Linked DNA regions of Homo sapiens: region 2 is linked to region 1. The links come from fine-mapping of genetic effects on gene expression. Tissue or cell type: whole blood. Region 1 holds a variant in brackets; the other region holds the start of a gene. All regions are shown on one strand. Distances are from middle to middle.

What was found.
Region 2: it holds the start of HPS1, and the variant in region 1 is fine-mapped to the expression of HPS1 in whole blood (INTERVAL, PIP above 0.99).

What each region holds. Positions count from the first base shown.
Region 1 is chr10:98,459,536-98,475,222 of GRCh38, reverse strand. HPSE2 (heparanase 2 (inactive)) reads left to right here. Exons shown (of 12, transcript NM_021828.5): 12 at 15,484-15,687. The coding sequence ends at 15,649. Among named protein-coding and RNA genes, the nearest start is that of HPS1, 20 kb to the right of the region's middle. RefSeq lists silencers at 7,177-7,276, 7,327-7,376. The variant G/A (reference allele first, on the strand shown) is at 8,282.
Region 2 is chr10:98,443,794-98,456,553 of GRCh38, reverse strand. HPS1 (HPS1 biogenesis of lysosomal organelles complex 3 subunit 1) reads left to right here and starts at 9,619. Exons shown (of 20, transcript NM_000195.5): 1 at 9,619-9,747; 2 at 11,150-11,254. It overlaps HPS1-AS1 (HPS1 antisense RNA 1), which reads right to left and starts at 10,233. Exons shown (of 3, transcript NR_134454.1): 1 at 9,797-10,233; 2 at 3,165-3,355; 3 at 2,749-3,051. RefSeq lists enhancers at 275-814, 2,705-3,206 and a silencer at 9,452-9,801.

The sequences.
Region 1 (15,687 bases):
TGGCATGAACCCAGGAGGCGGAGGTTGCAGTGAGCTGAGACCGTGCCACTGCACTTCAGCCTGGGCGACAGAGCGAGACTCCGTCTCAAAAAAAAAAAAAAATAGAATTGTGGTCCCATAACTGTAAGGGCTCAAGAGTTCCAAGTAGACAAATTAGGGGGAAATTCTGAATGTAAAGTTCAATGTGAATGTTTCGGATCAGAATGTCCCTTGATCTTTCTATTGCTAGGCCATATCCTCACCTGGCTTTCAAGAGCTATTTAATGTGGGGTGTTTTGGGGTTGTTGGGGAGGGGATTCTGAGATGAATCTCAGAATCTCCTAAAGGAGCTCAGAAGAATCTCCTAAAGGAGCTCATCTCTGTCACTAGAAACAAACAACTAACAGGAAGCAGCCTGTGGGTGGTGCCATAAATAGACATGTAAAGTATTTCTGCTTTGGGGCTAATAGGTTCCATATTAATGTTTAAATTTCAGATCTGCATGAGCCTCTCCTTTAGCTGAAAAAAATCTCAAGGCTCCTATGAACCAAAAATCTTATTGCCTATTCTGTGAAGAAATGCACATCTTTTTTTTTCCTTTTTCCACATACTGCTCATTTTTTCCATCTCTCTGGGATATAACTTTTGCTTTCATTTCACCCTCATTAAAACCTATATCAAAGAAAAACATTGGCATCTAACTGCATGCCTTTAGAGAGGTGTCATTTGATGTTAACCAAACAGAATGGTTCTGAAAATACTCAAGTAACTCCCAGGTGCTAAGACTTTAAAAATATCTTCGTGTCCCTGTTGGAACAGACCAGACCATATTATGATATTTCATCTCTGGATTCAGAGCTTGGCTAATGTGAAAAATCCTGAGGGGTGAACTGGCCACCCACCTGACCCGCCACAATCTCTCACTAATGATACCTGAAAGCACCATGTTTAGTTTCTGGACACAGAGAGATCAGGTAAAAGAAGCTTTGGGAAAAACCTTAACCCCATTAATTCAATACCACGACTCAGACACTCAAAAACAAAATATGAAGACTTGTTTCTGGGACCAGTAGGCCATTTGTCCATTTATCCCAGCAGACTCAAGACATCTAAGTATTTTAGTTCTACACTGCTGATATTATTTGGTACCTACATTTTTTGAACTCTGGTCAACCAGATGTACTCCCTGCAGGTTTCCATTATCTTCACTTGTCTGGGATCATTTAAATTAGTTTCTTTCAAAAATAAACCATTCTATGAAAGTTCTATAGTTAGTAAAAGATGACTTTATAAAGGTAAAATTTCAAAGAACTCATACGGGTCAAGAGGTTTCTTCTATAACATCCCCGACAAAAAGCTTTTCAGTTTCTGTTTGATGGGATGGCTCGTCTCAGGAATTGGCTCATGCTAGGACTAGACAGCTCTGATTGTAGGAAAGAGCCTCCATGTATTAGGCCAAAGGTGTTTTCTTGCCCTTTCTACTCTTGCTTTGGAAAAAGTAAGAAGAGAAAATCTATATCTTCTTCTTTATCAATTTTTCTATATATCTACCCTAAAAGCTCTAGTCTCCAAGCTAAACACTCTCAGATCCTTCAACCATTCCTCAAATGACCTGGTGTTCAGATTGCTCACCTTAGAATCCACTGAGTTTTAGAATTTTATCTCACAGGATTAACCTTTCAATTTTCTCTTCCTCTCTTTCTTTCTTTCTCTCTCTCTCTTTCTCTTTTTCTGCCTTCTTTTTTTTTTTTTTTTTTTTGAGACAGAGTCTCACTCTGTCACCCAGGCTGGAGCGCAGTGGTGCAATCTCGGCTCACTGCAACCTCCACCTCCCTGGTTCAAGGGATTCTCCTGCCTCAGCCTCCTGAGTAGCTGGGACTACAGGTGCGTGTCACCAAAACTGGCTAATTTTTGTATTTTTAGTAGAGACGGGGTTTCACCATGTTGGTCAGGCTGGTCTCAAACTCCTGACCTCAGGTGATCCACCCATCTCGGCCTCCCAGAGTGCTAGGACTATAGACATGAGCCACCGCGCCTGACCACCTTTCAATTTTCTTACCTCATCCAAACTTAGTTGAAGAGGTCTGAGATGGAGGAGGAAATATGAACATTTTGTTATTACAATTCACCTCACTAACACAATATAGTAACATTTTTTACATCTTTGCCAACTCCATAATAAAAAAAGTATTCTTATGTTAATTTCTATTCTTTGAGCATTAATGAGCCTGAAGATTTTTCATATGTTAGTATTGTATTGCTTTTATGAATTTTCTATGTCCTTTGCTATTTTTCTGTTGGGGTATTAGTCTGTTTTATTAAGTTTGCTCTAATACAGGTATAAGGCAATTTCCTCCATTGCTATCTATGTATTGAAATATTTTCTCTAGTATTTTATTTGCTATTTTTCTAACTATTAGAGTATTATCTTGACATACAGAAATATTCCCTTTTATATAGTTAAATATGTTTACCTTTCTTCCATTCTACTTATATGTGTATGAATTTACATTCTTGAAATCAGATCAATATGCATCTTTATTTTCTTCCAGATTCTTTTTTGTTTCACTTGTATTCATTTCTTTGATTCACTCGGAATCTGTTTTGATGCATGGTGAAAGGTAAGGAGCCTCAGTGCCTATAACGTTCAGGCTAAGACCATGTGAGGAAAGCTGTTAACCCCTGCAGGGCTTCAGATGTTAAAATATCAGGAAAAAATAGGATAATTTTTTACAAAGCAAGACTTAGAATCAGACATCTTTGACCTGGAGCAAAAGGCCCCCCTGGTGCAGATCAACCACATCAGCTGCAGCCCTTTTGAAAGGCCATTCAGAGCCCCTCAGCAGGAAAGACAAGCTGCAGAGGCTGAGAGCACCGAATGGCAAGAAAGTGCCTGGGATCAGGGAGATTTACGAGCTGGCTGTGAGTTAACAGGAAAGTGGTACTTACTCTAAACACTAGCATTCAGGTTAGTGCCCCAGTTCAGAAAGGCCGAAATAGACACTGTAAAAAGCGGAAATATAAATATATATGTAAGAGTATATATATATATTTATAAAAATACTTATACTTAAGGTTCTGAGGCAGTATATAGAAAAAAAGAAAGAGAAGTAAATATGTAGAGAAATGAGCCTCACAAATCTTGTTAATGCAAGCTTACTCATTGAAACCCAGAGGAGTTTGGATTCTTTTAGCCCTTCTGCTAATTTAAGAGATAGTAGCTATAACCAATGTTAGCTACATAAATAAGTATATACATACCTGAAAACAACAGTGAGGATACTGAATGACACATTCTTCATTCCCTTAGTTCCTCTTGCCTGAAGAGAATTTGAACCACTCTTTGTCTATAAGGAGCTCTCTGCAACACAGTCTAGAACTTGAGAGAAATCTGAATGATTTTATAGAAACTGACTTTCAAGAAAAGAAAAAAGTTGTTCTTTTCAGTGTTCAAGAAACACAGAGTTGGCTATCAGCGCTGATGCTTCATCTGATTTGTTTCCTAAGTCATCCTGTAAAGTGCTACACATGAACATCCCTGGTACACACCGAGGAGCATAATCATCCCACCAAGGTACAAGCGGGAGGGGGCAAGACATCCAGCGAAGCAGTTCCAGTGAAACAGCAAAAATGCTCCCTTCAGTCTATGGAGCAAAAAACTTGTCTTTGGAAAGTTCATATCTTCCTTTTAGGTTAAAAAAAAATGTAGCCTCCTGACATGGCACTCAAAAAGTAAGAAAATCTCTTTTTATTCGAAATAAATTCAGAATGTAACAGTTAGAAAGATATCTGAGTCCCCTCCACCCCCAGCTACAAACATATCCCCGCCCCTTCTTCTACCCGTGGTGTTCAACCTTGGCTGCACTTCCAACTACCTGGGGAGCTTTAGAAACCCCAATGCCCAAGCCACACCCCAGCCAATTAAACCAAAATCTTTGGGTTGGGACCAAGGCACCAGTATTTGTTAAAGCTCCCCAGGTGATTCAAATATGTGGTCAAGGTTGAGAACCACTGTCCCACTATAAACTTCTAGAACAAGATCCCAGATGATTTGTATCTTCGATTTTTCCCAGATTAGATTCTTCATTCAGGCGCTATGCCATTTTGCCAAAGGTGTGAACATGCCATGAGCCCCTGGGAGTTCTCTGTGACTGAGTGGAAGGATGAGTGCTGGCTTCTCAAAGGTTTTATTGTTTGTTTTGTTTTAACTCCCAGATTACTAATGTGGAGATCACTGTGCCGATTAGAGGATTATGAAATGCTTTTATGTTTTACAGCGACTTGACATTTTAAACCAAGATGTTTAGGAATCTAGGCTTTTCACTGTTATTTTCCGAGAGTTTTTTGTTTGTTCTCAGATCCAGAATATATTTTCCTCCAGTTCACTCCCAGCAGCTGGAAACTCTCTGCGTAGCTGTCCATTAAGGCTGTGGTATCCCCTCTTCACCTCCACTCACTTAGGGACCCTCGTTGTAGGCAGGGATTTCCATTCTGTCCCAGATGACCTAGACGAAACACCTGTAAATGGGCAAGTTAGGGTAGAGCTAACATATTTCTAAACAGTTGATTCTAAAGTGAGAGAGCAGCAGAATATGTGGGCAGTTCTGGCTGACTGAGAAGAAATGGCCCTCGTCTTCTTCTTCCCCTGCACCTTCCAGAGGCTGTGATGAAGAAATGTAAGCCTTAAGGAACTGAAAGTTCTAATCCAGCTTATCCCTATAGTGGGGCCTGGGCCCTGAATTGGTGTTTCTTTGGCTGCTAAGCATCAGGAAGCCCAGGGCAGGATGTGGGCTCATTCCAGACAAGGGGCCTGGAGCATTAAACTGTGGACCCACTGCCAAACACCAGCAATACCCGTGCAGACTAGCCTTCCCTGCTTACCCTTGCAACAATGATTCAGAGTCACCCCACACTTTGCACTTGGATATCTGTGGGATCTGGAACAGAGCCTGTACCACCTGAGACATCTTTTTTCCCTTTTGAGATTATACCAGTACACCTGATGTCATGGGGAATACTTTGTCAAAAGTTAATAAAACAGGTATTTATCACCTTAACATGTGTGTTAAACATAACTAAACATGTTATGTTTAAAACGTGTGTTAACATGTGTGCATACACACACACACACACACACACACCTGCCTTCCTACCTGTCTTCACTCCACCTGTAGACTGCTGTAAAGGGGATGCTTTGTAGCCCCACATTCTCTCCTCCAGCTCCACACAATTAGGACTGGGGAAACCTGGTCCCTCTCCACAGAGGCTACCGTAACTCAGAGACAAAACAGACCACCTAAGGGTAAATATAGGAGATGGGATTATGAGAAAGAGAGAGATGAATTCTGACTTGGGAATCTGAAAAGTCTCAGGGCTGAAGGCCGTGGAGCTGGAGCTGGAAGGATGTGCCATACTTCTAGGAAAGGCTGTAGGAAAGGCAACTTCCAGCAACAGGATGAGATCACTAAGGGTTTGGAAGTACAGAAGTTCAAGGCTCATTTTGTTTGGGAGGTGGCAAATCATCTCATGTGACTGGAATACAGGATGCTTTGTGGGGCAAAGGGAAAGGCCACAAACACATAATAAGCCCAGACTGCAGAAGGCCTTGAAATCCAGGCTAAGTCTGATTTTCCTCCCTTCCTGCTCTTTGTGTAATATCTTTATATGGTGTGTCTGCTCAGACATTTGCATATTTCAGTGTTTTCTTAGAAGACAAGGAGTAAGTCTATTGTAATTTAATTGGTACAATGAAAAGAACGATGGAACTATGAATAATGCCCCTTAAACACTACTTGTAAATGTTGATGATGATGGCACCAATTCTTTACAGTGGTAGGGGGACATAGTTAACCACATGCTGAAGTCTCCATGGTTTTTATAGCTGGTTCCTATTGTGTCCTGTGGTTTGAGTGTGATATGCCTATGACATGGAGCTTTGAGATGGCTGCAGGATCAGATTTTCTTTCCAAACTTCCCCCAGATGATTCCCTCATCTGCTGGGAGTTAACAATATCAGTATAAATCCAGGTTCCTTAGTCAGGCTCTCATCTTGTCTGCCAAGTGTGCTAAATTATTTTAAGCCATTAGAAGCACATGGTAGAGTCCATTATGGATTGGATCACTATTACACAGACTTGGATAGAATACAGATCAAATCCTGACCCCCAAACCACACTACATCCAGGAAAAGCCTATATCCCTAACAACTTGCCTACAAAACCCCCAGCTCTCCTTGTATAAAGGGTCCTGGTATTTTCTCTGGTCAGTGATACAGAAGCTAGATCAAAACTGCTCACCATTTCAGCGTGTCCCTCAGAGGGTAGGATGGAGGGCAAATAAACTTCTCAGCCTCAAAATGTCTTAGGGACAAGGAACTCCAAATAGGGTATGGGCTGTTGGAAGGGCAAGGGAACAGGATACTATTTTCCCCATTTTCTCTCTCTATCCCTTACAGTCCTCTCTGTTAACAACAGTAGAGGAAGAGATTGGAACATACAGCCAGGCATGACTCCTAGAGCAGTTGATTGAGCAGAACTCAACAAGTATTAACTAAACAGCTATCATGGACAAAAAGGCACTGAGCCGCATACTATTGAAAATTGAGAAATGAAAAGTCAGTAGCAGACAAAATGACCCAAGCACACAGATAAAATAAGCCTGAGAGGGACGCTAAAAGGGAGATGCAGATAATGTGCCGCTCTCCCAGCTTGTTATCAGGTGAGGTCCCAAGCAGGAGGCTACCTCTGACAGGGCCTGGAGGGAAGAACAGGCTTTTGAGAGATTCCACCGGATTCCAGGTAGAGCAAAAAGCACATAGAAGAAAAGTTCAGGACACACTTGAAGTAATTGCCCCCGTGACTCCTGAGGAGTGGGAGCACCCCAGAGAGGGTCATGACGGTCTTAGAGCCTTTCCTCCAGCCGGACATGGGGTACCAGGCGACACCACCTGCAGGGGCCACTTCTGAGCAGCCTTCCTCAGCGTGGTAGCCATCACTCAAGGCAATTTCAGACGAACTTCCTGTTCAAGCTGCCCCAGATGCACCGTCTCCCCACCGAGCAGGAAAGGGAAGCAAAGCCCCTCTGTCCTCAAACCTGACTGGGCCTCCTCGGGACTCTAACCTGCCCCTGACCTGGAGAAGGGCAGGGCAGCTGCACATACCAGCTTCCTCGCTCAGCGAGGGGGCCGGGAGCCTGCAAAGCACAAACAGGTGCGGGGCCGACCCGACTGGCGGCCGGGGGCAGCCGGGGACCCGGAGCCCGGGAGAGCCCAGCGCCGAGTCGTGGCGGGCGCCGCAGACCCCGCACCTGCCCTGGGACCCCCCGTTCTCTGCACGCTGGCCGGGAAGCCGGCACCCCTGCAGGAATTGCAGTCCCGTTTCGCACGTTTCCTTAATATTAGGCCACATTCCAGGTGGGACCCTTGCCAACGGGACCGCAACGAAGTTCTGGTTGGGATTTGATTGATTCTGTGATTTGTTCCTCCGGGAGGCCAAGCGCAGGGCACATCTCCCGGCCTTCCTGAGACTGGAGTGCGGGATTTGGAGGCAGGCGGACGCATTCCGGCTTCCTGGGTGCCACCCCGAAGTCAGACTGTCCTGGCACCATTGTGTAGGACAAGAGTGACCTCTAGTGGCCCCTAGGAAAGCACACTGGAGGAAAGGGAGCTGATAACTCAAGCGCAGGCCCATACAAACACACAGTCGGACTTATCTCTCCCCTGCCCCTCCTCCTTTCTCTCCCCCTTCCCTCTCTCCCTCTCTCTCATCATTTAACAATCCAGAAACTGAGACCAGAAGCGGCTGGTCACATACCTAGACCTGCACATTTCATGTCCCAAGCCTGGACTAAAACGGGTTTCTGGCCTTCCTGTCCAGAGTCTTTCCTTCTAGGTAGTAGTTCTTTTGCCCACGTGTTTATATCCAATGTGTCTTTTATTGACGCCTCCTGTGTGAGTGGGCGGACAGAAGAGTGACGGATGAGTAAGACACATGGGCTTCCAATCTAGTGGAGAGACTGACAAGCAGTCAGCTCAGCGGTCACAATACTGTGTGACAGGAGCTGAGATCCAAGAAGTACTGGGTCCTGTGGGAGCACCCCTGACTTGAAGGACAAGTAAGAGTTAGCCAGGAGAAGGAAGCTGGAAGGGAGGAGGAGGGCATATGGAGAAAGGTCCGGGTAGAAGGAAACCGTGTGCAAAACCCCTGTGCTTAGGCCGCGATTAGATAAATGGCCGTAAAGAATGAAAGGAGGTGGGGGTGGAAGGGAGCTGGAAGGGGCGGGAGCTAGAGTGAGCCTCTTGGCG[G/A]TTGGAGAAGTAGATAATAGGGCCTGTGCATGGGGACTTCAGACAATGTTCTAAGATCAGCGGGAAGCCACTGAATATTTAGACAGGTCAATATCATGGTCAGATTTCTGTTTATGCAGGATCACTCTGGGCTTGGCATAAAACTTTGCCTTAGGCTAGCTGTTAGTCATAGGCAACCCAACTGAAAAACGGTTAAGCCAGAAGGGATCTTAGGGTTCATCTGATCTATCACCCCTCACCTTACAGATGGAGAAACTAGTCTCAGAGAAGGCAAATGTTCTGAAGGTGGGTGAGGCAGAACTGATTTTCTTTTCTTTTTTTTTTTTTTTTTGAGACGGAGTCTCACTCTGTCACCTATGCTGGAGTGCAGTGGTGCAATCTCGGCTCACTGCAACCTCCACCTCCCGAGTTCAAGCGATTCTCCTGCCTCAGCCTCCTGAGTAGCTGGGATTACAGGCACCTACCACCACGCCCGTTAATTTTTGTATTTTTAGTAGAGCCAGGGTTTCACCATGTTGACCAGGCTGGTCTCGAACTCCTGACTTTGTGATCCGCCTGCCTCGGCCTCCCAAAGTGCTGGGATTACAGGCGTGAGCCACCGCACCTGGCCAGAACCAATTTTCTTTAAGTCCCTTCACCTCCCACTCAAGGCCCCAAAATATGCTATGCCAGCCTGAACTACACACCAGCTCCCAAGGCTGCTCCTGATAAAACACATAATTCCCCACTAAAGATCCCCTCTTGCCAGACTGTAGTCCAGAAAATTATCTTCAAGCTTTAAAAAGGACATGCTCCCTGACTTACTTCCCTGACACCTCAGAACAGTTGAAACCTTGCTTAAATATCCATGGCTATCGAGAACAGTGATAAGACATGAAGACCAGAGACTGTAGACAGGTGGGCGGAGGGTAGCGGGGGAGTGACCAGGCCAAGGGGCTCCCATGGAGACCTGGGGAGCAGAGGGCTTGACTCCAAACTGACACTTTGAATCCCATTTTAAATAACATTCAAAATTAATAAAACAAGTGTAGGGATTGGAAAATAACTCAGACTTTGTAAAAACAGATGGTGATAAAATGCAGTTGTCCTAATATTTGGATAATTTAAATACCCTCAGCAGTTCAGGCAAGCTAGGGAATTAAGAGAAATAGTTCAACCTAGGCTGGATCATTCAGCATTTGATTTAAAAAGTCACGAGCCATTTAGGAGGTCTCAGAATATGATGAAAATATGATAAGGACGGTTTTCAAAGAAAGAAACATAATCCTGGTGAACACCAGCTGGAATTGGAGAAACAACATGAAATAGTAGAAAGAGGTGGTCAGGAAGCCAGAATTTGAGACCTAGCTTAGCCACTTATTAGCCACATGACCTTGCCCAGACCACTTAACCTGTCTAACCTTGTCCCCATAGTAAAGTTACAATAATAGTAATACTGGCCTATGTATCTCCTGGGGCTCTTTAGCAATCACATGTGACAAGGGAGGCCAGATAGGGCTATGGTTAAGGGCGTCAGTGCAAATCTCAGCTCTACCACTCATTGGCTGTATGGCTTAGGTGAGTTTTAGACCCCTCTAAACTTTGATTTGCTCATCTGTAATACAGGAATGCTAACACCTGCCTCAATTGTTGTAAGGACTAAATGAGATAGTCAAAATAAATCATAGCATAGTGCCTTTTGCATAAATAGTGCTGCATAATTGGTGAATTTTATCATTAATGTGATTATGTTTACAAGCTTACAAGCTGTTCAATGTATCTAAATGAAAGATTATTGTTATATTTAGCATGATATGACTGCTGGGTAACAAGATAAATATTAAAAGAAAAATATAGGCAGGAAGAATAGAATGGAAGTGATAAAGCACATGGCCCATCTTTATAATGAAGGGACTTTGTGGATAAGGATGTATGAGGACTCAAGGTCTCACAAAACCTTATTCACAAAATTAACTTATGCTCACTTAGCTAAGAGATGGTCGCATAGATCTTTTTTAAGGATGGAAAACACTAGCAATGATCAATGGTCTTATGTCAGGTTGGAATGAGGTATCTAGTGAGTGGCTGAGAGAATCAGTGATAATTCAGATCTTATCTAACATCTCCACAAGCCAACAAGAGCAATAGTAATTGGCGCATTAATGAAATCTGTAAACACACTCAGCAAACCTCCAGGGAGCCTCTTTAGAGCTGGAGAAACTCAATCCAGGAAGATCAGAAATAATGCAAAAGAGCCTCAAAAGCCCATTCACTTGCTCAGAAAATATTTAGCCCCTACTCTGTGCCAAGCACCTCTTTAGGCATTGAGGATTCATAGCCCAGTGAGGGATCAAACAAGTAACTCACTACAATAAGGGCCACAGTTAGAAATAACTTTGGGTGCTAAGAGAGTCCAGAAGTGGGGCTCCAAACCCAACCTAGGGGTCAGAGAAGGTTCTCCAGAGGAGGCAACACCTACACAGACGCTGCAAGGATCCATTGCAGTTAGTCTGGCAGAGGAAGACAGCTGGAGGGAGCACCGCACAGAATGATATGACTCGGAAGCAAAACTGCAAGTCATTTTATTTGGTCATGCTAGGGCACGGGGGCTTGGCCTCTTCAAGCATGTGGGTTCCTTTTAAATGTCAACAAATGTCACGGTCTTCCACATTATAGTAATTGTCCTTTCAAAATCTATTCCTTAAAAAGTACATGATACCTCCCTCCCCCAAAAAAAATCTATTGGGAATTGAAGAACAGTTTTAAATGAACTTATGTTTTAATCCCAAAACTGCTGACTAGCATTTACTTTTGAAAAATATTTTCTTTCTTTTTTTGTGTTTTTTTGAGACAGAGTCTCGCACTGTTGCCCAGGCTGGAGTGCAGTGGTGCAGTCTGGCTCACTGCAACCTCTGCATCCCGGATTCAAGCAATTCTTCTGCATCAGCCTCCTGAGTAGCTGGGATTACAGGTGTGCGCCACCACACCTGGCTAATTTTTGTATTTTTAGTAGAGACAGGGTTTCACCATGTTGGTCTGGCTGGTCTCAAACTCCTGACCTCGTGATCCACCCACCTTGGCCTCCCAAAGTGCTGGGATTACAGGCGTGAACCACCGCACTCGGCCTGAAAAATGTTTTCTACCTTTTTGTTATTTTGGAGACAGGGTCTCACTGTGTCACCCAGACTGGTGTGTAGTGGCACAGTCTCAGCTTACTGCAGTCTCAATGTCCTGGGCTCAAGCAATCCTCCCACCTCAGCCTCCCAAGTAGTTGGGACTACAGGCATGTGCCACCACACCCATCTAATTTTGTTTATTTTTTTGTAGAGATGGGGGTCTCACTATGTTGCCCAGGCTGGTCTCAAATTCCTGGACTCAAGTGATCCTCCTGCCTCAGCCTCCCAAAGTGCTGGGATTACAGGCATGAGCCACCACACCCAGCCTACTATACTTTTGAATTAACTTGTGTATTTCAATCCCAACAATATCTACTTACATTTTCATTGAGAAATATTTACCTCATCTCTGTGAAAGACATTATTTTTTCATTCGTCATCTTTGTGTATGCATATATTAATGAAATTCTTACAATAACTGGCAACCCCCTACCAATGCCCACTCCCAGAGGTCTGCGATCCACAGTGAGCGTTGGAGGGGGGACTGGCGGGATCTGAGACTGGAGAGGTAGCTGGAGCTGGGTGTCATTGTTCACAATAAAGTGTAAGGGAAGGGGAGTGTTGGCAAGTTTGAAGCGGTGCAGTGACAACAGATAACTGTCAGCAATGTGGCACAGAGATAGGTTAGGAGGCAAGTTCTGAACTAAAAAGATAGCAGTGGATGGAGGAAAAGGAGCAGATTTGAAAAACACTATAAGGTCGAATTATTTTGACTTGGCTACCCTACACAAGGGAATTGGGGGAGAAGTCTCAGAAGACTCCAAGCTTTCTGGGTACAGTAATTGGATAAATGGCGGTACCATCACAAAGATAAAAAAAAAAAAAAAGCAGAGATAAGGACAGAGTTTGAGGAGAAGATTTTGAATTTGGACCTAGTGACTTTGAAATTCCTGTGGACAGCCAAGTGGAGATACAGAAGTTCATAGAAAGAATGTAGGTAGGGTAGAGATACAAGCTTAGGGAGCATCAGCTTGTGGATAGTGACCGAAGTCAAGGGTGAGAGCAGCAGCAACCTGGGAGGAGTGCAGAGTGTGGGGACAGAAGAGTCCAGGGACAAAACACTAGGAACCCTAGCATCTGAGAAGCAGGCAGAGGGGAATGGCTCCCTCTCAAAAAAACAAAAACAAAAACGAAAACAAAACGCCATCCAGAAATGGAGGAAAACAGAGAGAAATATCATGGGAGCCAAGGGGAGAGAGGGTTTTGAGAATGGAGACCTGAAAATGTGAGTACCACAGAGCAGTCAGGTATGATAAGGACCAACAAGTGCATCTGTCCACAGTGACATTAAAAACAATAGCAACAACAGGTCAGACACGGTGGCTCATGCCTGTAATCCCAGCATTTTGGGAGGCCAAGGCAGGTGGATCGCTTGAGGTCAGGAGTTCGAGACCAGCCTGGCCAACATGGTGAAACCCCGTCTCTACTAAAAATACGAAAATTAGCCAGGTGTGGTGGCACATGCCTGTAGTCCCAGCTACTCGGGAGGATGAGGCAGGAGAATCATTTGAACCCAGGAGGCAGAGGTTGCAGTGAGCCAAGAATGCACCACTGCACTGCAGCCTGGGCAACAGATCGAGACTCCATCTCAAAAAAATAAATAAATAAAAATAAAAAGAACAACAACAACAAAAACACCATATCTTAAGTATATGGTTCATTATGCTTTCAAAGCACTTTCATATTTCTTATTTCATTTCTTTGGTGCCTATATAACGTTCTTACAGATGCAAAAGCTACAGGGCAGTGAGGTTAGGGGATTTGCCAAAGCCATCTAGCTAGTTAGCAACTTGGCTCCTGGAATTCGAGATTTCAGTAGAGAATCTTCACCATGCTTCCTGGTTCTACTCTTAGCTTTTTAACCAACCAATAAAGAAACCAGAATAGGGCCTGTTCCAGGACAACTACTCCTTATTAGTATAGATTTTTAAAGGTTTGCTAATCACACGTTGTTTTGCACTCCCCAGAACCCAAAGATGTCAATACTGTGGGATCATCTGAATCTAAAAGGGCATTACCTAATTCTTCAGAAGAAAGGTTTGCACCTAATTCTGTATATGGGAGAAACCATTGAAGGTTTTCTAGCAGAGACCTGATATAAATTTGAGTATGCCTTAGAAAGATTAATCGGTATTATTGAACTCGTGTTTGACTGTGCTTATATCTGGGTGATAGATATTCATAGCACCTGAAACAAAATAATGAAAATACACTGTGAAGACCCATCTGGGCTTCTTTTGTAACTGAACCACTCTCCTCACCCTGCCTTCCACTCCAATGAGTAGGCTGTCTTCACTACAGAGGGTCACTTCTCATATTTGGAAGCAAAAGCTCCTTGCATATCTGATGCGGTCAACACTGACCTTCAGATCTCAATTCTCCCACCCCATGCCTTCCAGAGGCAGGCCTCGCTCTCCATATAGAAGCCTCCTACTCACTTATTCACTCAGTCATTCTAGCAAAGGGAGGGGGCCTGCTCCCTCTGGCCTATCAGATCTGGACCTAGCCCAAACTTACCCATGTGGGGCCAGGCCTGGATCTCTTCTCTGCCTAGCTCTCCATTGGGAGCAATTTACAACACACTTATCTCTGGGAATTCACTGCTCTATTGGGCATGGGTCTGATTATCTCTCTCTAAAGCAGTCTATCATTCATAGCACAGAAGGAACACTAAACAAAGACCTCTATATCAATTTATAACATTCTATTCTCTTTACAGCTCAGATGATGTCACGGCAATGTTATCACACTGGAGGTTGGGCAAGGCCCAGAAACAGTCATCACTATGCAATGTTGATTTTCTGAGGGTGACTCACAACCTTATTTCCAGCTGGTGGCCTGTTTCTGGCCTTTTCTGCTGACCCATAAAACTAAGCTTCCACCTGGGTGCATGGCTGTCAGGAACAGCTGGAACATTATCTGGATTCTGGTACCATAGGTCAAGGATAGGTGGCATTTCCCTCTATCCAGCATAAGATGAGCTGTTTCTCTTTTCTAAGTTTGCTATGTATGTAGTCCCCCTTCTCAGGGTGAAAGTGGCTGGCTATACAGAAAGGATAAAAGCAAGATAGATGAATTGTGATCACAAATGCCTACTTTATCACTTACTTTGCTGTTTTGCTAAATGGAAACATCTGTTAATATTAAATATGAAAACTCATTTTTTGTTTTTTTTAGGGACAGAGTTTCTCTGTCACCCAGGATGGAGTATAGTGGTGTAATCTTGGCTCACTGCAGCCTCAACCTCCCAGGCTCAAGTGATCTTCCCACTTCAAACTCCTGAGTAGCCACCATGCCAGGCTAATTTTGCTTTTATATTGTTTGTAGAAATGGGGTCTCGCTATGTTGCTCAGGCTAGTCTCAAACTCCTGGACTCAAGCGATCCTCCCTCTTCAGCCTCCCAAAATGCTGAGATTATAGGCATGAGCCACTGCACCCAGCCAAAACTCATTCTTAAATTAGAAAAAGTAGAGGTGTTACCTATGTCTCTGTCTCCCTTCCGTATAACCTTAGACAAGCAAGGTAATGTCAGTTATCTAATCTGTCAAGTAAATTAATGAGATATGAGTTAAATAGATTTCTGAAGTCATCTTAAGCCCATGTATCATTCCACAGGTAAAAACTCTTTAGGTGGAAAAGTCAAACTGAGCTGATATTGTGATTTTTAAAAAATAGGAATGAAACATTCCAGCTTCTGCATCACAGACTTTTCACTTGTCTAAATGTGTCTATGGAGGTAGACTACCTGGGTTCAAACCCTGGACCTCCAAGCTGTGTGACTTGGGACAAGTCACCTAGCCACTCTAGATAAAATGGGGATAATGATATTAATAGTTACTTACCTCAGGGGAGTGGGGGGGTTGTTGGGATGTTTGAATGAGTTATTAAAGTAAAGCACCTAGGTCAGAATCTAGGGCATAGCCAGTAACAATAAGTGTCAGCTGTGTGTGTGTATCAGACACTGCCAGGCCATCTGGGGCTAGGCTTTGTTGCAGTGGCTCCCTTATAATGCAATAATGAGTCCCATACTGTTTTTCCTCACTGTAGGTCAGTGCAACTGAATGGCCAGCCCTTAGTGATGGTGGACGACGGGACCCTCCCAGAATTGAAGCCCCGCCCCCTTCGGGCCGGCCGGACATTGGTCATCCCTCCAGTCACCATGGGCTTTTATGTGGTCAAGAATGTCAATGCTTTGGCCTGCCGCTACCGATAAGCTATCCTCACACTCACGGCTACCAGTGGGCCTGCTGG
Region 2 (12,760 bases), 17 kb after region 1:
GAAAGTCCCAATTCTTCTAGTGCCCTGAACAATGCTGCAGCTGTGGGATTATTAGCATTATCTCTGCTGGAGAAAAGTTTGAAAATACCAGAACTGGGCTACAGTGAGACTAAGGCCTGGGGCTCCCAGAAGCTCAATTCCCAAAAGCCTAGTGGCCCTCTGCAGCCTGACCCTTCCCCAGCAGGCGGGCGGTCCCTAGGCAGGTGGGCTCAAAGCCTTGCACTCTCCAGCAGGGCAGAGGTTGCTGGTGGATGCTGCCTGAAGAGGCTCCCACCTGCTGTCAGCACTGGGAGTCTCTGTGGCCCCCTGGCAGTGAGGACTCGTGTGCTAACCACTTAGCCTCTGGTGGTCATGGCGAGGCCCAGCATCTGCAGGTGTGCTCCACAGGCACTCAAGGCCCCAGTGTCTGGGATGGATGCAGCTGCAGGATTCACCTTGGAAATCCATTGAGAGTAGCTTTATGTTTGAAAACAAAAGGGCAGTGTTGAGTCTCTGCAGAAGCAAAGGTGAACCAGGTGGATCCCTCTGACGATAAAAACACAAGGGGAAGGGAAGACTAACATTTTGAAATATCAATAGAGCAACCAAAATTAATAGTGCTGTGGCTTGGAAAAGGCAAGAGAAGAAAGGGCATAAACTTTACCTAGCATGGCTTCCTCCACTTCTCCTCTCTCCAGCATCGGCACAACTGCCCCAGCCTGGCCCCTGCTGAGTGCTCGTTTCCACCAACTTACTCTCCACGTCCACAGACTCCCCTCTGCCAGCCACTCTGTGCCCAGCCAGGAGCCCAGGGAAATCTGCTGTATTGAAGTGAAGTTTCCATTTTAGAATTGTTTGTAATCTTTTCTTAGGATATACCAGGATTGAAAAGCAGATAAGAAGTACTCCAAAGAGAGATAGTGCTAAAATGAATTTTATTATTATTATAAGGCCCAAACAACTGGGACATACAGAACCCTTCTCTCTGAGTTCCACTAACCATGGCACGAAGGCTTCTGTGGCTGCCCTTCCTTGATCAAGTGCCTTCTTCTTATCAGACGTGCTATTTTATTGAATGCTCACAGCAGTGCTGGGTGGTATGGTAAGTGTTCAGACCCAATTATAGATGGGGAGGATTAGAGAAAGAACTTGTTCAAGACCACCCAGAAAAACAGTGTGGCAAAACTAGGAGTTGAACCCAGGTCTGTTAAAAATTTCAAAGCCTGCTATCCCTACACTGTGCTACCTCTCACCTGACTGATTGTAGCCACCTATTTCTCATCTCTGTATTGCCCACAGCTAGATTCCTTAACATCTCATGTGTGTCCTACAGAGAACCCTAGCAGTGCCTTACCCCCAGTACAACTGCTCTCTGGTTTGAGGATGCCAACTAGAAGCTCTTGTGAGTAGTGAGTAGTAAGTAGTGTTGTGGACAGCCTTTGCTGTAGAACTTTGAGTCCAGGTTCACCTTGGCCGATCAGTGGTCATCCTGGTCTGTTCCGCTATGATTTTCTTTTTTCTTTTTCTTTCTTTTTTTTTTTTTTTTGAGACGGAGTCTCCTTCTGTCGCCCAGGTTGGAGTGCAGTGGCACGATCTCGGCTCACTGCAAGCTCCGCCTCCTGGGTTCACGCCATTCTCCTGCCTCAGCCTTCAGAGTAGCTGGGACTACAGGCGTCAGCCACCACACCCGGCTAATTTTTTTGTATTTTTAGTAGAGACGGGGTTTCACCGTGTTAGCCAGGATGGTCTTGATCTCCTGACCTCGTGGTCCGCCCATCTCGGCCTCCCGAAGTGCTGGGATTACAGGCATGAGCCACGGCGCCTGGCCTCCACTATGATTTTCTATAAAGCAGTTTTAAGGACCACTCCCACCATCGCCACCAATCGTAGGTGAGAATCTTCAGTATTCCTAAGGCCTGAGAGGTGAGTGGCAGAGCCAGTCAGCAGCCCGCCCCCGCCCCGCAACACACACACACACAGCTTCTATGAGTGCTGCTCCCTGGCCCCCATGACCCAAAGGTCAAATCCATTAACCATTGCCCTCGGGGTAGTATTTGCAAATACCACTTTAAAAAAAGAAAGTCAAAATCCAGCAAACCAACTGCTTTGGCACCACCTCCTTCCAAACACCAAGGCAGCCCCTGTGAGCGCTGGGAGCATTTTGGAGGAGTTGACCAAGTTCCATATGACTTAAATCCCAGGGTCCCAGGGTCCTATGCACACAGCAGAGAAAAGACGCCCTTCCCATGTGAACATTACTCTTCTAATTATTATTCATGAAAATATTCTAGGATTCTTTTTCAAGTTATAAATGTTATTTGATAATTTATGTTTTTGGAAGAAGCAAAAAGAAACTTTAGTTTTGTTCATCTGGAAGTTGGCAAAATGAGTTCAGGAATACCTCCCAGAAAAAGTTTCCTCTCTGTGCAGGGAATTTTAACAGGTTAATATTTTCTTCCAGAAAACAGAGTAGATTATAGTTTATGGAACCTGGTGATTGTAGAGAGTTTGGGTCCAGGGGGTAGTTTGCATTTTGAGGTAATGTTTTGTAAGTAATAAGATGCGACTACTCTAACTTCCTATTCTCAGGGTGTTCTGTGGGGAGAGGGAGGCAACTGCTGCCCACACTACACCCTGACCTTAAGACTGATTGACTGATGAACTAACACGTACTGGGGATCTCTGATTTCATGGTGTGCTGCCCTCCTCCCCTCCCCCACAACCTTTGCTTCAATTACTCTAAGTAGAAATTGAATTTCATAACTCCAGTTAGATGTCATTGACTATATTAGTTAAAGTCATTCTTAACTATAATAACAGTTAAACCCCAGAAACTCAATGACTTAACACAGTCCAAGTTATTTCTCGCTTATAATTCATGTAAAGTTGAATTGGTGGTATTGGGGTGGAGGTGGTGTTCTGTTCCATCGACGTGCCCAGAGCAGTTGGAGGCCCAACCTGGAACTGGAGTCAGTCCTTTCCACTCACTTCTATTGGCCAGCAGTCATTTGGTCCCATCTGGATGCTAGAGGAAATGCAGTCCTTATCTGGGCAGGTACCTTCCAACAACAGCTGTGTTTCATGGAAAAGGAGCACAAAACTATGATGGATGCTAGAAGACCAGAGAATGGGTCAATGCTGTTAGATCCCTCTGGCTGATTTGTCTTCAAGTGAGTATTACATACCATTTGTGTGTGGTGGTATCTAAATCCACAGGACCTTTTTGCACACTCCATAGTAACCTAAGCTTCCTTCTCCATCTCCTCCACTTCTAAAGTCCTGCCTCTCCTAGTACTTGGCTGATTTTTGTCAGAAAACAATCTGTGTTGCTCCACTGCCATCCAATGTAGATGCACATAGTAGAAGATGCTGCCCCCTGTACCAGAAACATCAAAAATATAATTTGAAACCTCAAATAGCAAAGTGGGTTAAAAGGTAACTAGAGAATCATAGAGGCCAACTCTAGACCCAATGAACAGTCACACCTGGAGATCACAACAGGCTATTCCACTGATTTTATCCACCTCAGAAGACAAGTCACTCAGCCTCTCTGGACCTCAGTGTTCTCATCTATAAAATGAGGACTTTGGATTTAAGTGAAATCTAAGTTTACCTGAAACTCCCTGTTGTCTGATGTTATGTCAGATGGTCTCTGGTCCAAGTGCTATTGTTTTTCTATTTCCTCCTCATGTTAGCTTATATATTAGATAACATCCTTTTGAGAAGTTTCAAAGTTAGCTTTAAATTGTTGCTATTTCTACCTAAATGCAACGTGCCTTCTAGAATGCATGCACATGAAATTCAACACAGATAACACGTTTTGAAGATCCTCTCACCCTCAGGGATAGTGTCCTGATTTTATTTTTGAGTTAATTACTTGACTCTTGCCACCCCAGTTTCTTCCAAGCCGTGATTTAGTGCATATTTAATGCAGACTAAGCATGCCCCAAGGCATACCCACCTTGTTAGGTTTTTAAAAGGAAAAGATTGACCTCACATAGGAGAAATTAGTTAAATTGAACTTTAAGACAAGTACGTGGGGTTGCTCCAGCAGCAACTGAAATGTATTATAGTAGAATTTCACCACGTATGCACCTAATGTCTTGGAACTCAACTATGTCTACAAGTGCATGGGTGGTGGGAGGCTGAGAAAATTGGAGGAGACAGTGAAAGGAAAGATGAAGACAGACAGGGAGAGAAAGAATGAACAATCAAAATAATGCAATGAGAGATGCAGGAAAGAATAAAAAGCAACGTGAAGGGTAATTATGTGGGAAACTCTAAATAAATATAATCTAATAATAACAATGTCTCTTGCAATTTAAAATAGGTAAATAATTAAAAATGCATTACAATAATACCATACATATTGAAAGCTGGTAAATGGAAGATATATTAACATCCTTACATTTTCAAGAAAGAGGTAAAACTACTAATTTACATTAAACTTTGATAAGTCAAGGATGCATGTTTTAGTCTCTATGGTAACCACTGAAAGAATACTTAAAAGAGTATATTCTTTAAGTGAATGGAGAGGCAGTGGAATCATAACAAAAACGCTTCATCTAACAGAAAGCAAGAAAGAAGACAAAGATAATGAAGAACAGGACAAACAGAAAGCAACTAGCAAGATAATAGATTTAAAACCAAATTTATTTGTAATGGCACTAAATGTAAATGGAATAAATGCTCCGATTAAAAGATGAAGGTTGTCAGATAAGATAAAAGAAAGTTCAATTAAAAGCTATTTCAAAAGAAATATCTAAAATATAAGAAATTAAAAGGAGTAAGAAAAAGATATGCCATGCAACAAAAGGTGATGTCCTTATGTTTATATGAGACAATAAATGCTTTTGTAAAACCAAAAAGCATTGCTAGTGATAGGGACATTTCATAAAGATGAAAGTTTTGATTTAACAGTAAGATATATAATTATAAATCTGCATGTACCTAATGACATCTCCTATATGTGAAGCAAAAATCTAACAGAAATAAAAGGAGAAATAGAAAAATTTGCAATTATAATAGATTTTTAACTGCTATTTCTCTCAGAAAATGAGAGAAAAGGCAGACAAAAATCAGAAAGAATAGAAAAGATTTAAACAATACAATTAACATTTTATCTAAATGATATATGGAGAACATTACAACAACAAATGAATAAAGTCCTTTTTCAACAACACATCGAAATATTTATAAAACGTGGTTATATACTGTGACATAAAGTTTCAAAAAACTTCAAAGAATAATAACATACAATGTATTTCTGACAGCAGTGGAATATAAGTGGAAATTATAGATAGATGATAGATAGATAGATAGATAGATAGATAGATAGATAGATAGAGAGATAGAAAACTAGAAAATCTCCCTGTGCTTGAAAATTAAGAAACACACTTCTTAATATTCCATGAGAAAAAAATCAGAAATCACAATAAAAAGAAAATATTTTAAACTAAATGGAAAAGACTACATATAAAAATATGCAGAAAGAACTTCCAATTTCTGGTAATGTTACAGTTGTATCAGACTGACCCTTTTGCCAATAACAATTACGAACCTTAGACAAAATTTGAAAAAACAATTCTTTGAAGGCAATGCAGAACAGCTAAGAGCAGGCAGAAACTGCAGGAGATATAGCTCTTGAATGAAGAAAATCACACTGGGTGATATCCACATTTATTTGGCTTTTCTCCTGAAGGAATTCCCCTAGTTCACAACAAAGAGCAAGGTCCATCAGCAAGCAGCTATTATATTAGACCGTGGAGTGACATTGGTGTTCAAGACTGCCAGAGCAGCTGAAAATTGAATGGAGAGGGAAAGGGAACAGGTGGGAGAAACTTAAAAAGCTGGTACAAAGTACACTCAAATATCTGGCTGACCTCTGAACTATACTCTAAATAAATCAAAAGAAAAATTAGCATTTTAAAGTAATTGAAAATGAAAACATGGCAGATAAAAAGTTGTGGGATGCTGATAAAGCAGGACCTTGGGGAAGATCTACAGCACTCAACTCCATTAGAAAAGACAAAAGGTCTCAAATCAGTGGCCTCTGTTTCTAGAAGAAAAAAAAACCCAAAGTAAACAGAAGACACGAAATAGTAACTATCAGAACAGAAACTGATGAATTTAAAAACAGGATCAATAAAAATTGATTCAACCAAAAACTGCCTCTAAGAAAATCAATAAACTCCTTTTAAATTTATTGAACATAGACTCCAAAAATAGATTCACACACAGATGGTCAACTGATTTGAGACAACGTGCCATGATAATTAATCCAATGGAGAAAAGATTGATTGATTTATTTATTTGAGATGGAGTTTCACTCCTGTTGCCCAAGCCGGAGTGCAATGGCACGATCTTGGCTCACTGCAACCTCTGCCTCCTGGGTTCAAGCGATTCTCCTGCCTCAGCCTCCTGAGTAGCTGGGATTACAGGTGCATGCCACCACGCCCAGCTAATTTATTTTTTTGTATTTTTACTAGAAATGGGGTTTCACCATGTTGGCCAGGCTAGTCTCCAATTCCTGACCTCAGATGATCTGCCCTCCTGAGCCTCCCAAAGTGCTGGGATTACAGGCATGAGCCACCACGCCTGGCTGAGAAAATATTTTTTTTCAACAAATGGTTCTAGAAAAATTGGACATCTATATACAAAACACACACACACACACACACACACACACACACAAAAGACTAAAACCTCAACCTTCTTTCACATCACACACAAAAATTAACTCAAAATGGATTGTGAACCTAAAGACAAAATCTACGACTATTAAATTTCTGCAAAAAAGAAAAAACAGGAGAAAATCTCTGTGACCCTGGCTAAGCAGAGACTTTACATAGGACACAAAATGCACAAAGATTTCTGCTCTTCAAAAGTCACTGTAAAGAAAATGAAAAGACAAAGCCACAGACTGGGAAAAAAAAATATAATAAAGGGCTTGAATTCAAACACATAAATAAATAATAAGACAAACAATCCAATTTTTAAATAGGCAAAATTTGAACACTTAACATACTACCACATACCTACTAGAATGGCTAAAGTTAAAATAGGACAATATCAAGTGCTAACAAGACTACAGAGCAATTACACCTCTCAGTGTTGCTAGAAGGAATGTAAAATGGTACATCCACTTTGGAAAATGGTTCAGCAGTTTAATATAAATTTAAACACAGACTTACCATACAGCCCAGCAATCCCATGAGTAGATATTTACCTAAGAGAAATATAAACTTATGTTGAACTACCTCACACCCATTAGGATGGCTACTATAAAAATTTTAAAGAAAATAGAAAATAGCAAGTGTTGACAAAGATGTGGGTAAACTGGAACACTTGTTCCAGGTTGGGAATGTAAAATGATGCAGCTGCTGTGGAAAACAGTATGGTAGTTCCTTAAAAAATTAAAAATAGAATTACCATATGATCTAGCAGTTTCTCTTCTGGGTATATGCCCAAAAGAATTGAAAGCAGAGTCTCAAAGAGATATTTGTACACTCATGTTCATAATGGCCTTATTCACAATGGATGTAACCCAATTGTCCATCAGCAGATAAATGGATAAGCAAAATGTAGTATATACAGACTATAGAGTATTATTTAGGCTTAAAAATAAAGAAAAAAGGAAGGAATTCTCACATATGCTACAACATGAATGCACCTTGAGAATATTATGCTAAGTGAAATAAGCCAGTCATAAAAAGACAAATACTGTATGATTCTACTTATATGAGGTACTTAGAGTAGTCAAATTCATAGAGACAGAAAGTAACATTGTGGTTGCTATGAGGAGGAATGAAGAATTGTTGTTGTTGTTGTTTTTGTTGTTGTTTTTGAGATGGGAGTCTCGCTCCGTTGCCCAGGCTGGAGTGCAGTGGCATGATCTTGGCTCACTGCAACCTCTGCCTCCTTGGTACCAGCAATTCTCCTGACTCAGCCTCCTGAGTCACTGGGACTACAGCTGTGTGCCACCACACCCTGCTAATTTTGTATTTTTAGTAGAGACAGGGTTTCACCATGTTGGCTAGGGTGACCTCAAACTCCTGACTTTGTGATCCGCCCGCCTTGACCTCCCAAAGTGTTGGGATTACAGGTGTGAGCCACCACACCCGGCCAGCATTATTGCTTAATGGATATAGTTTCAGTTTTAAAAGATGAAAAGAGCTGTGGAGATGGATGGTGGTGATGGCTGCATAGCATTAGGAATGTAGTTAATACCACTGAACAATACACTTAAAATGCTTAATGATCAATTTTACATTATATGTATTTTACCACAAACAAATTTGAAAAAAAGAAACATGTTGACACAAAAAACCCGTACATAACTAAAAAATAGATTATATTGGATTACATAAAAATGTAAAACTTTGGTGCTACAAATGATACCACTAAGAAAGTGAAAAGACAAGCCACATAATGGGAAAAAAACTTTTGCAAATCAAGTATCTGATAAGGGGCTTGTAACCAGAGCATATAAAGAACTCTTACAACTCAATAATAAAGACAATTTAAAAATGGATAAAGGATTTGAATAGACATTTCTCCAGAGAAGGTACACAAATAGGCAAAAAGCACATGAAAAGATGCCGAACGTCAGGGAAGTGCAAATAAAATCACAAGACACCACTCCACGCTGGGTTACTATACTTAAAAAAAAAAAAATCAACAATAACAAGCATTGGTGAGGATGTGGAGAAATCAGAATCCTCATACATTGCAGTTGGGAAATGGAAATTACCAGTAGGGGAATGAATAAGTAAATAACAGCATATCCATTTGATGGAATTCATTCGACCACTGAAAGCATAGTGAGTGAACGATCTCAACGGTGGGCTGAGCAAAGAGATGCGTGTGGCAGGGCTATGTGCTGTAGATGGGGAGTTGGAAGAATTTGCCCTAAGGTGGGCTGGAAGGGGTGGGTAGTGGGTTGGGGGGAGTGATGCTCTCTTTGATCTGCAGGTGGTGGAAGTATTGATTCTTAGCCTCTGCCTTTCCCCCAAGAGATGCTCAATCTACTATATCCCCAGCCAGTTCTTGCAACCCATACCTTGCTGGGCTGGGCTCAAAGCTCCCAGGTGGCACCCAGGCACTGAGGGGTGGACTGTTCGGGGATTTAGGCCCTTCCAGAGCGCCCCCTCCACTTCCAGGCACCCCCAATACACATACGATTTTTTAAAATAAATATTGCAAACATAGGTTCAACACAAAACTCCTAATGTGCACTCCACTCCCAAAATAGATTGAGAACTCCTATAAATTCCAGCGTTGGCACTCTGGGGGCAACTGAGCCCTTCTGTGCGCTATGTCACCTCCCCAAAGGTCAGGGAGAGCAGTCACAAAAGGACAGCTCTAGCCCCAGAACTTCAGTTCATTAGGCAAAGCCTGAGGTTCCGGGGCATGGGGAGGAGAGAAGGGATCAGCTGAGGAGCCAGGAAACCTGGGTTCTGAGCCTGGTTCGGACCCTCAGCAAGTTATTTCTTCTCTCTGCGCCTCCGTTTCCTCTTCTGTAAAATGGGGCATGGGCAAGGCCTGGCAGGGGCGGGGCTCGAACCCGCGGAAGGCGACGGCGGCTCCGGCCCCTCCCGGGGCGGGCGGTCACGTGCGCGATCACGCGGTCCTACCCGGAAGCGCGCCCGGGCTCCTGCAGGCGGGGCGCTGTGCGCGCCGCGATCCGGTACGTGGGCCTCCGGGCTGTCCCCTCTGGGGGCGGCGATCCTCCCTCCGGAGCCCCCCTTCAACCCTCCCGGAAGTGAGGTAGGGTCCCTAGGGGTCCCGGAGCGGGCCCACTCCTAGCCTCACCCACTCCGGGCGTGTGGCCGTGGGCCGGTCGCTTCCTCGCTCGGGGCCAAAGTTCCTCAGCCGTGAAGAGGGGTGGATGTCACAAGTCAAGCCTCCTTCCCAGGGTGGCCGTGAGGTTCGGGGGTGGGGGGAGGTGGGGATTTGGGGTGAAACTGGACAGAAACTGGCGTGCTAGGCAAACGGGAGCCCCGCGGCGGCGAACTGCTGACTCGCTCTCTCCAGAGACTCAGGGGCAGGGCCGGGCTCCGAAGGTGTGGGACCCCAGAAGGAGCTGCTGAAGACGGGACCAAGGGCCACAGGGAGGTTTGCTGGGGTCCAGATGGTGAAAGTGGGCGCTGGGGGTCGCCCCAGGTTGGCCCCCCGCCATCTGGAGCTCCTTTCGTCAGTGAGTCCCCTCCGAGTTCCCTTTCTAGGGCAAGATAGCGAGGTGAAGCGGAAGTCTCAGTGTGACACCGGCGAGGTTCTCTTCCCAGCAGCCTTTGGGAAGCATCCCCCTGTTTCGGGAATATGGCATTCGGGCCAATCATGTGGGTGATGGAGCCCGTCTCAGGGTTCGGCTGCTAAAGGCCGAACTCGTAACAGCAGTCTCTGTGGCGGGTAGTCACTTGCCTCTTACTGGCTCACAGTGCTTGACTTCCTAATTAAGTTTTCTGTTGTTCCTGCCCTCTATTCAAATATGAATGATTCCGGAACCAGATTGATTAATCCTGTTATTTGAAGAAGGGAAGCTGGGAAATAGGAATAATGATCCCCACACCTATGTAAGAACGCAGTTTGCTAAGGTTACTTTGCAGCTTGCCTGGTCACTCCCATGATCTAACCCTGTAGGGAGGTAGAGTAGGGGATGTTGCTCTGTTTCTCCGCAGGAGTTTGAGGCTCAGAGAGGTTTATGGGACTTGGCAAAGCCAAAACTAGAACCTGGTCCCAGATGCCTTTCCTGTTAGTTTCCTTCCATTCATCGTATCATCCCAGGATCCCCACTCCCTTCACCGGGACTGCATCCTCACCACCTGGGATGTGCTATGCTGTCTCCCGTCAGTCACTCCTAGCAAGCTCCCTGGGGCTGCTTGGGGAGCTCTGAGTGACCCGCAGAAGTGAGAGCACTTCATGGGAACAAAGGAGGAAGGAACAAAAGTGGGCACCTGCTCTGTGCAAAGGGCTGTGCTGGCCGGGTTCCTATTCTCCATTATGGGAGGTGAGGGGCAGGATCCCAGATATGTTCTTAGCAGACTGCCTCAGGGCCTGGAGAGACCAGGGACCACGCAGCCCTTCTCCAGCTTGTCCTTTCTCAACGGGCAGCAGTCAAGACCAGGGCATCTGCCTGCCCTCATATTCTCTCTGTTTTAAGCATTTGCAGGACCAGGGATGCTGTGCTGCTCTCCCATGAGCCAGTCACCGAGTCGGTCTGCTGCAGCCCTTTCTGAACCTCTGGCCGTCTGGATGCTCCACTGTGCTTGCCAAGGTAGATGATCTTGCCCCACCTGGGGAGGACAGGGAGGCAGGCAGCATCCACCCTGGGGCTTTGGGAGGCAGATGGAATGAGGTAGGCAGTGGACTGAGTGCTACTGGGCTCTGCACACCTGCTCATCCCCTCCCCAGCCCTGCATCCTGAGGCCACCCCCATCCTGATGCCTCATCTCTCCTTCACCCCTCGAATCCAGGCAGGTCATCACAGCCTGCTGCATCTTTAAAGCTCCTCCCAGCCCCCACCAAGGGGTGAGCACTCATTACCTGACACCCGCACCTAGATGACCGCCTTCATGACCTTGACCTGCCCATCTCCAGCCAGCCGGTCACTTCTCCGCTCACAACCACAGCCTCCATTCCATAGCCCACTGCTCCCTAACCCATACACTCTGGTCAGCTTTGTCACATGTACCTGGGAGTCCCAGAGCAGCCTCTTCAGGTCCACCCGCCTCTCCCAGCAACCTCCTTTTCACACCTGTTGCACTCTCAGTGTCTGCCTTGGCATTGAGTAATTCTGTGGGAATAGGCTGCATTCCTTCTTCACTGTGCTGTTATGTCTCCTGGCATTTGCCATAAATACCTTGGGACCAGTTGCACCAAGTTAGTTTGGGAGGAATTCAGTAAGGACCACTAAGCTGGACATGGGGATGACGGAACACAAGACCTGGAGATGCTGTGATCCTCCCAAGAAAACTGGAAATCCACTTGTGTGAGAGTTACAGCAGAGCTTCCTAATCATTGTCATGGCTTAGCGCACATACCACATGATTATATCTGCGTGACACCCTGAGGCACATAAGAGGATTTGAAACCACTGCCTGAGGCCTCTTAGCTGCAGCAGCCAGCCTGGAGCACTGTCCTCACCAGCCTGGTCAGGCTGCCCCAAGTTTTAGAAGATCGAGGGTTTGCCGCACGCAGAGGGCCATGGCACACAGTGTGGGAAGCTGTATTAAAGATCTTCCAGTGGGTGAATAGTTAAGACATTTCTTACATAATCAAGCACAGAGTGTGTGGTGTGTGTGTGTGTGGCGGGGGGGTGGGGAAGGAGATTTGGGAGGGCTGAAGACACTGGTGGCTGTGGCCCTAGAAGCTGCAGCCTACTAGGTACAGGGGCTTTAGGCAGCCTCTGTTCTCACCATGAACAGGGAGAGCAGCATTTGAATGAAACTTCTGTGGTGCTGAAGTAAATTCAGGGGCTTTGAGGCTCATCTTCTGGAGCTGTTTTTTGTTTGTTTGTTTGTTTGTTTGTTTGTTTTTTCAGACAGAGTCTCGCTCTGTCACCCAGGCTGGAGTGCAGTGGTGTAATCTCGGCTCACTGCAACCTCTGCCTCCCGGGTTCAAGCAATTCTCCTGCCTCAGCAGTTATCCCGAGTAGCTGGGATAACAGGCACTTGCCACCATGCCTGGCTAATTTTTGTATTTTTAGTAGAGACGGGGTTTCACCATGTTGGCCAGGCTGGTCTCGAACTCCTGACTTCAGGTGATCCACCCCCCTTGGCCT